2 linked regions of the Homo sapiens genome follow. The protein of the gene in region 1 interacts with the protein of each later gene in a biochemical or structural test. Each region holds a gene or a part of one and is shown on either strand. Other genes may lie near its edges.

The links. Proteins that work in one complex are often made in the same cells at the same time.
Region 2: the proteins of MYL1 (region 1) and TRPV4 interact in a test that uses a peptide from one of them, tested with the Homo sapiens proteins (one large-scale study listed by BioGRID).

The regions. Positions count from the first base shown.
Region 1 is NC_000002.12:210,291,175-210,294,674, reverse strand, and holds part of MYL1 (myosin light chain 1/3, skeletal muscle isoform), read left to right. Parts: intron 1-256; coding exon 257-430; intron 431-874; coding exon 875-952; intron 953-3,500. UniProt on the Homo sapiens protein: Non-regulatory myosin light chain required for proper formation and/or maintenance of myofibers, and thus appropriate muscle function.
Region 2 is NC_000012.12:109,785,494-109,788,398, forward strand, and holds part of TRPV4 (transient receptor potential cation channel subfamily V member 4), read right to left. Parts: intron 1,404-2,905; coding exon of another isoform or gene 1,383-1,403; exon of another isoform or gene 1,345-1,382; coding exon 1,217-1,344; intron 1-1,216. UniProt on the Homo sapiens protein: Non-selective calcium permeant cation channel involved in osmotic sensitivity and mechanosensitivity. Activation by exposure to hypotonicity within the physiological range exhibits an outward rectification.

The sequences.
Region 1 (3,500 bases):
TTGAGGCACAAAAAGGTTAACTAGAGCACTGTCAGAGTTGCAAATGGTAGACTGGGAATAAAAGCTCAGGAACTGCAATTCCAGACCTCATGCCATTAACTATTACCATATTCTTGATATTTTAGCAATTTACCAGCTGAAATTTAAGCTGTGTGAAGGTTTTTCAGATAACCTAGAATAACTTTTCAAGTTTAAATTGTGACTCAGAGTTAGTATTATGGTAGCTAATAACCCTCAAAATTGCAATTTCTTACAGAGCTGAATGCCAAGAAAATTGAGTTTGAACAATTTCTGCCTATGATGCAAGCCATTTCCAACAACAAGGACCAGGCCACCTATGAAGACTTTGTTGAGGGTCTGCGTGTCTTTGACAAGGAAGGCAATGGCACAGTCATGGGTGCTGAACTCCGCCATGTTCTAGCCACCCTGGGTAAGGGAATTTATTTCAGTGGACTTAGTGAGACAGAATATATAGAAAAGAACATGACAGGAGAATCATGTCACTACCAAAATAGGAGGAAAGACTACAAAGGGAAAATGGGAAAAAAAAATAGTCAAAAGTTAATGACCATTTCAATTGGCCTCAGTGGCAGTGAGTTTGGTGAAAATGTTAACTTAAAATATTGGTAATGAATAAGTAAAGGAAAGCATGGTAGTTCTTACAGGACACTTTGTATGACAACAGATAATGTGTATTTAATTAACTCATTCAAAAACCAATTAGTTGACAATATATTAAGTACCAAAAGAATGGGAAAGTCACAGTTCCTATATGTCAAGAGTTTAGTCTCCAGAGCCCTTGACTGATGACCTATGGTGGATTTTGAAAATAACACATGGCCTTCTTTCTGAAAGGAGAGTTTTGTTTCATCAGGTGAAAAGATGAAAGAGGAAGAAGTGGAAGCCCTGATGGCAGGTCAAGAAGACTCCAATGGCTGCATCAACTACGAAGGTAGAATCAATGCTCACTGGTGGTTACAGCAACTCTTAACTGATCAGATTGATGATGGGCTCCTTTTGAGCTTCTTTTCCTCTTCCTTCCTTATTGACATACATATGACAATCAATTGCATAACTCTAAAAAGATATGTGAGGATCTGAACATATAAATAACATTTATTCCAGTGTGTTTTAGCAATACTGTGCATTGTTTTAAAGCTAAAAATGTGTTTTCACATATATTTTTTGTTAGATCTTCAGAACATCCCTATGAGTTAGACAGGGCTGATGTCAGAATCAAATTTAATAGAATATTAAACTTGAAGAAATCTCAAAGTCATTTACTAATATGAAGCAATTATGAAAATGAAACTTCGGGCCAAATAGGTTTAGTTACTTGGTGAAGGTCAAATCACTAATGGCCAGGCTGGTGGTAAAATTTACTTCTTTTCCTTGTCTAGTGTTCTTGCTTACATGAAAGTCAGCCCACAGTTGCCAATTGTTTAATTCCTACTACCAATTTACAGCAGCTTCACCCAGAGGGTGTGAAAGCAATGCACTACAGAAAACAAAGATGCATAATATAATTTACAAATTTAAAAATTTTTTAATTTGTAAGAAAATTTAAAAATGTTTCTATCCCCAAAGAGAATGAATCAAGTTACATATAAATAAAGACAAAAAGAGAAAAACAAAGAAGAGAAGAGAATGAGAGGGGAAGAAAGGAGAAGAAAGGAAAGGAGGGAGAAGAGGACAAAAAGAAAGGGCTTAGCCAAGCATATCTTCACTGACAATCTTGATTAAACTTCACTTTTTTCCCCGTCGACAATTCTTCACATTTGGCTATTACCGTAAATACACTCCATAGAGAATCATTCAATAAATACTGTTTGAACAAGTGGACAGTCATCTAGAAAATAAAGTCAAATCTGAATTTTATGCCAAGACAAATTTCAAATAATTTACATGTGAAATGTAAAAGCTAAAAACATAAAGAGCACAAAAATCACAGAAGAATTAATTTTATAACTTTGGAGTGGTTACGTTTTTTCTAACAGTGACACAAAAACCAGACGGCATTGAAAATCTTGACAAATTTAATCACATACTTTAAAAAATCTATATGGCAAAAGCCACCAAAGCAAAGTCAAAAGACAGCAAACCAGAAAAAAAAAAAATTCAATTAATACCAGAAAGAGCTAATTTTCCTAATAAAAAAGAACTACTACAAATTAATAAAAGATCATATCCAATAGAAAATTAGCAAGTACATGAACAGACAATTCATAGGAAATAAAATGAATAAAATAAGATGACAAACTACATTAATAATTTTTAAAAAGCAAATTAAAACTACACTGACAGCTGGGCGTGGTGGCTCACGCCTGTAAATCCAGCAGTTTGGGAGGCCCAGGTAGGTAGATCACTTGAAGTCAGGAGTTCCAGACCAGACTGGCCAGCATGGTGAAACCCTGTCTCTACTAAAAATACAAAAATTAGCTGGGCGTGATGGCACACAGTAGCCTGTAGTCCCAGCTACTCAGAAGGCTGAGGCACGAGAATCGCTTGAACCCGGGAGGTGGAGTTTGCAGTGAGTGAAGATCGCGTTACTGCACTCCAGCCTGGGTGGCAGAGCAAGACTCCATCTCAAATAATAATAATAATATAAAACTACACTGAGATATCATTTTTCAATAAGCTGATTGCCAAAGATTAAATGTTTGGGCACACTTTGGGCTGAGGAGAGGGTGTGGAAACAGGCAATTTCATGTATCACTGATGGGAATGCATGTTGTTAAAACCCCTAGGTTATGGTGTGGTACTACTAATTGCAGCAAATCTACTTCTGGAGAGACTTAGTCTCTAGATATACTTTCACTCAAATGAGATGACCATATATAGATGGTTATTCATTACTGTGCTGTTCATAACTGCCAAATTTTTTTAACAATTTAATGTCCATCAAAGTATAATTTCATCAATGTATCAATGTGAAAACAATCGAATGTCTATCAATGTATCAATGTGAAATTCTCTGCAGCCCTAAAAAATAGGGACACTCTTGTGTACAGTTATAATATCTGTAAGATAAATTATTAATTGAAAAAAGGAATACAAAACAATGTATAGAGTATGCCATTTTTTGTGTAAAAAGATTTTTAGAAACATATTTATGTGGTCTTGTATATGCATAAACAGCTCTGTCAATTTAGCAGTAAAAAGGGGAACCAGTTGCCTAGCAGACAGTGATGGGAAACATTTTGTTGTTATATACCCTTTCATACGTTAAAGAAAATATTTTAACCATAGCTGGGCACAGTGACATGTGCCCGTAGTCCCAGCTGCTTGGGAGGCTAAAGCAGGAGGATTGCTTGAGCCCAGGAGTTTGAGTCAAGCCTTGACAACACAATGAGACCCTATGTTAAAAATAAAAATGTATGTGAATGTACCACTTATTCAAAAAATTAATTTGCAAAATCAGGGCAAAGGTCATAAATCCACTACTAAGAATTATGAGCTATACACACCTTAAATACAAAAGAAAAGAAACTATTGTTACA
Region 2 (2,905 bases), on another chromosome or scaffold:
CTGCAACCTCCACCTACCAGGTTCAAGCGATTCTCCTGCCTCAGCCTCCCGAGTAGCTGGGATTACAGGTGCATGCCACCACTCCCGACTAATTTTTGTATTTTTAGTGGAGACAGGGTTTCACCATGTTGCCCAGGGTGGTCTCAAACTCCTGACCTCAGGTGATCCACCCACCTTGGCCTCCCAAAGTGCTGGGATTACAAGCACGAGCCACCACACCCAGCCAAGATTTGAGCTTTGGATTCAAACTGAACAGAGGCTGGGTGTGGTGGCTCACGCCTGTAATCCCAGCATTTTGGGAGGCTGAGGTGGGAAGATCGCTTGAGACCAGGAGTTTGAGACCAGCCTGGGCAACATAGCAAGAACCCCATCTCTACAAAAAAATTAAAAATTGGTCGGACATGGTGGCATGAGGAGGCTGAGGTGGGAGGATCGCTTGAGACCAGGAGTTGGAGGCTGCAGTCAGCTATGATCACACCACTGCACTCCAGCCTGAGCAACCCTGCCTCTAAAAACAAACAAAAAATGGAATTGAACTGATCGGATGGCCTAGGAGGTGGGTTCTATTATTGTTCCCATTTCACAGATGAAGAAACTGACTTTGTCTGACTCCAAACATTCTGCTTATGCTCCATGCTGACAACCACTTTACAATGAATGAATCAACTGGAAAGAAAAGATTCATGAAGGGGTTCCCCTAAGAAGCTGGCACTCCCTGTGCCTCTGGAACACGGAGTCATTCTGCAGATGGGCTGGGTGAGGTCTCCAGCCCTGGAAACTGCACATTCCTCAGCTTCCCATTTCACCGAGGGCACTAGAGCTCACCCCACTGTTTGGTAGATACAGGGTGATGCTCTAAAATGAACCCACCATCCAAGTCTCTGCTTCCCCCTGAGCAAGAACAGGGGAGCCTGTGGCGTCCCGATGCGCGTCGGGCACTGGCTGAGCACTTCTCACGTGCTGACCTGTCTAATCCGCACCGCCAGCCTAGGAGCCCGTGAGATCATTGTCTCATTCCACAGATGAAGAAACTGAGGCTGAGAGAGGTGGGCTGACTTGCCTGAGATCGCCTGGTGGAAATGAACTCTGCTCGGGCCTCTTGGGGCCTCAGTGGCTCCAGAAATTGCAATGGGTAGACGACGCTGGAGCAGCAGGGGCCCCGAGCCAGTGGGGACAGTTCCGCCCTGCCATCCTGGCCCCACTGCCCCAGCCTCACCTGAAGCACCACCTGCGGTCAGGAGTGCCGTCCGAGCTCTTGCCCACGGTGACCATCTCCCCAGAGCGGAAGGCCTTCCTCAGGAATACGGGGAAGGAGCGCTCAATGTCCAGGATGGTGGTGGCCCACTGCGGGGAGGGAGGGTCAGGAGGGACATCGGTGAGCCTCACAGCCTGCGCCTGCCGCTCTGGTGGCAGAAATGAGACAACGGGCCAGGGTGGGCCCAGAACTAGGCATTTAGACTCCTACTCCCCACTAGACACAGGGTTTATAAACTCAAATACCCACAGGTGGCAGGCAGGAAAACAAATGGGTGAAACAGGATCAGGTGCAGAAAGGCTGCCGCCCAAGCCCTATCACACTTACACAGCAGTTGCCTCTCAGTGAGGGAGGGGTAGAGACTGGGGAGAACAGGGAGCAAATGCCCACGTGTAAGGGGGCAGCTGCCACTCACCCCACCTGAGGGCTGCCAGGCAGGAATCCGGACCCTGCACTGCCTGGAGCTTCCAACTTTTCAAGAAAAGCCAGAAATCTGGGTTTTCATAGGGAATCTCTTAATTTTTAAATTTTGCAGTTTTTTGTTGTTGTTGTTGTTTTTAATATAATGGTCTGATGCTGGGTGCAGTGGCTCACACCTGCAATCTCAGCACTTTAGGAGGCCAAGGCAGGTGGATAGCTTGAACTCAGAAGTTCAAGACCAGCCTGGGCAACATGGTGAAACCCCATCTTTACAAAAAATACAAAAATTAGCCGGGTGAGGTGGTGCACACCTTAGCCCCAGCTACTCGGGAGGCTGAGGACAGAGAATCACTTGAGCCTGGGAGGCAGAGGTTGCAGTGAGCCAAGATCACACCATTGCACTCCAGCCCACAGGATGCCCAGTTTGCATCCTGTGAGTAATGCCCAGTGGGGAAACTGAGGCCCAATGAAGTAAGCAATATAGATAAAGGTTAAGAGCAGGCCAGAGCTGTTTCCCTCAGACCCAGTCCTGGGAGGACAACCTTGGGCCCTTTTTTCTCACTGCACCATTTTCCTGAAATGCACAGTCAAGGTAAACACGGGTGCTGTATTCCTGGGCCGTGGGGCAGCACTGTTTATTAGGACACCAGGTTTGTAGGCTGCACCTGGCCTGGGAGGGCTGTGATCCCAGGGCCTGTTCTTTCCAGGATTGCATAGAAAGCTTTTGGTAAGTAAAAACTTTCTGCAGCTCCCCGGGCCAAGGCGGCCCCTGTCCCCATTGGTTTCTCCTCTAGGAAGCATGCTCACAGTTGCTAGAAAAAGACCCCCATGAGAATGCTGACATCCCTGTGCTGGAGTGCTAGAGCACAAAAGCTGCCCCTGGGCTCAGCGTGGGACCCCTGCTGAAACGCTGATGCCCACGGAGCACTTTCTGAGCCGGCAGAAGTCACTCAGTCATGCTAGGTGGAGCCGACTGTGTCCTGTGAGCTGGACCACAAGGAGAATCTGAGCCCACTGCTGGCAGCCAGGCAAGAAGCCACCTCAAAATTCACTAGGCAGCTCTGGGAAGTCAGCAGCAGCCTCTGATGCCCATTTTACCGACAGAGAAGTGGAGGGAGAATGAGAAGACACTGCTTGCTCAGAGTGGAAGGCCGAGGAAGCCAGTCGGGTGGGTCTCCTCGGAAGGACGAGGGTGGCTGGTAGAGTGGGGCTGGGGGCCCTGGGGCCTCA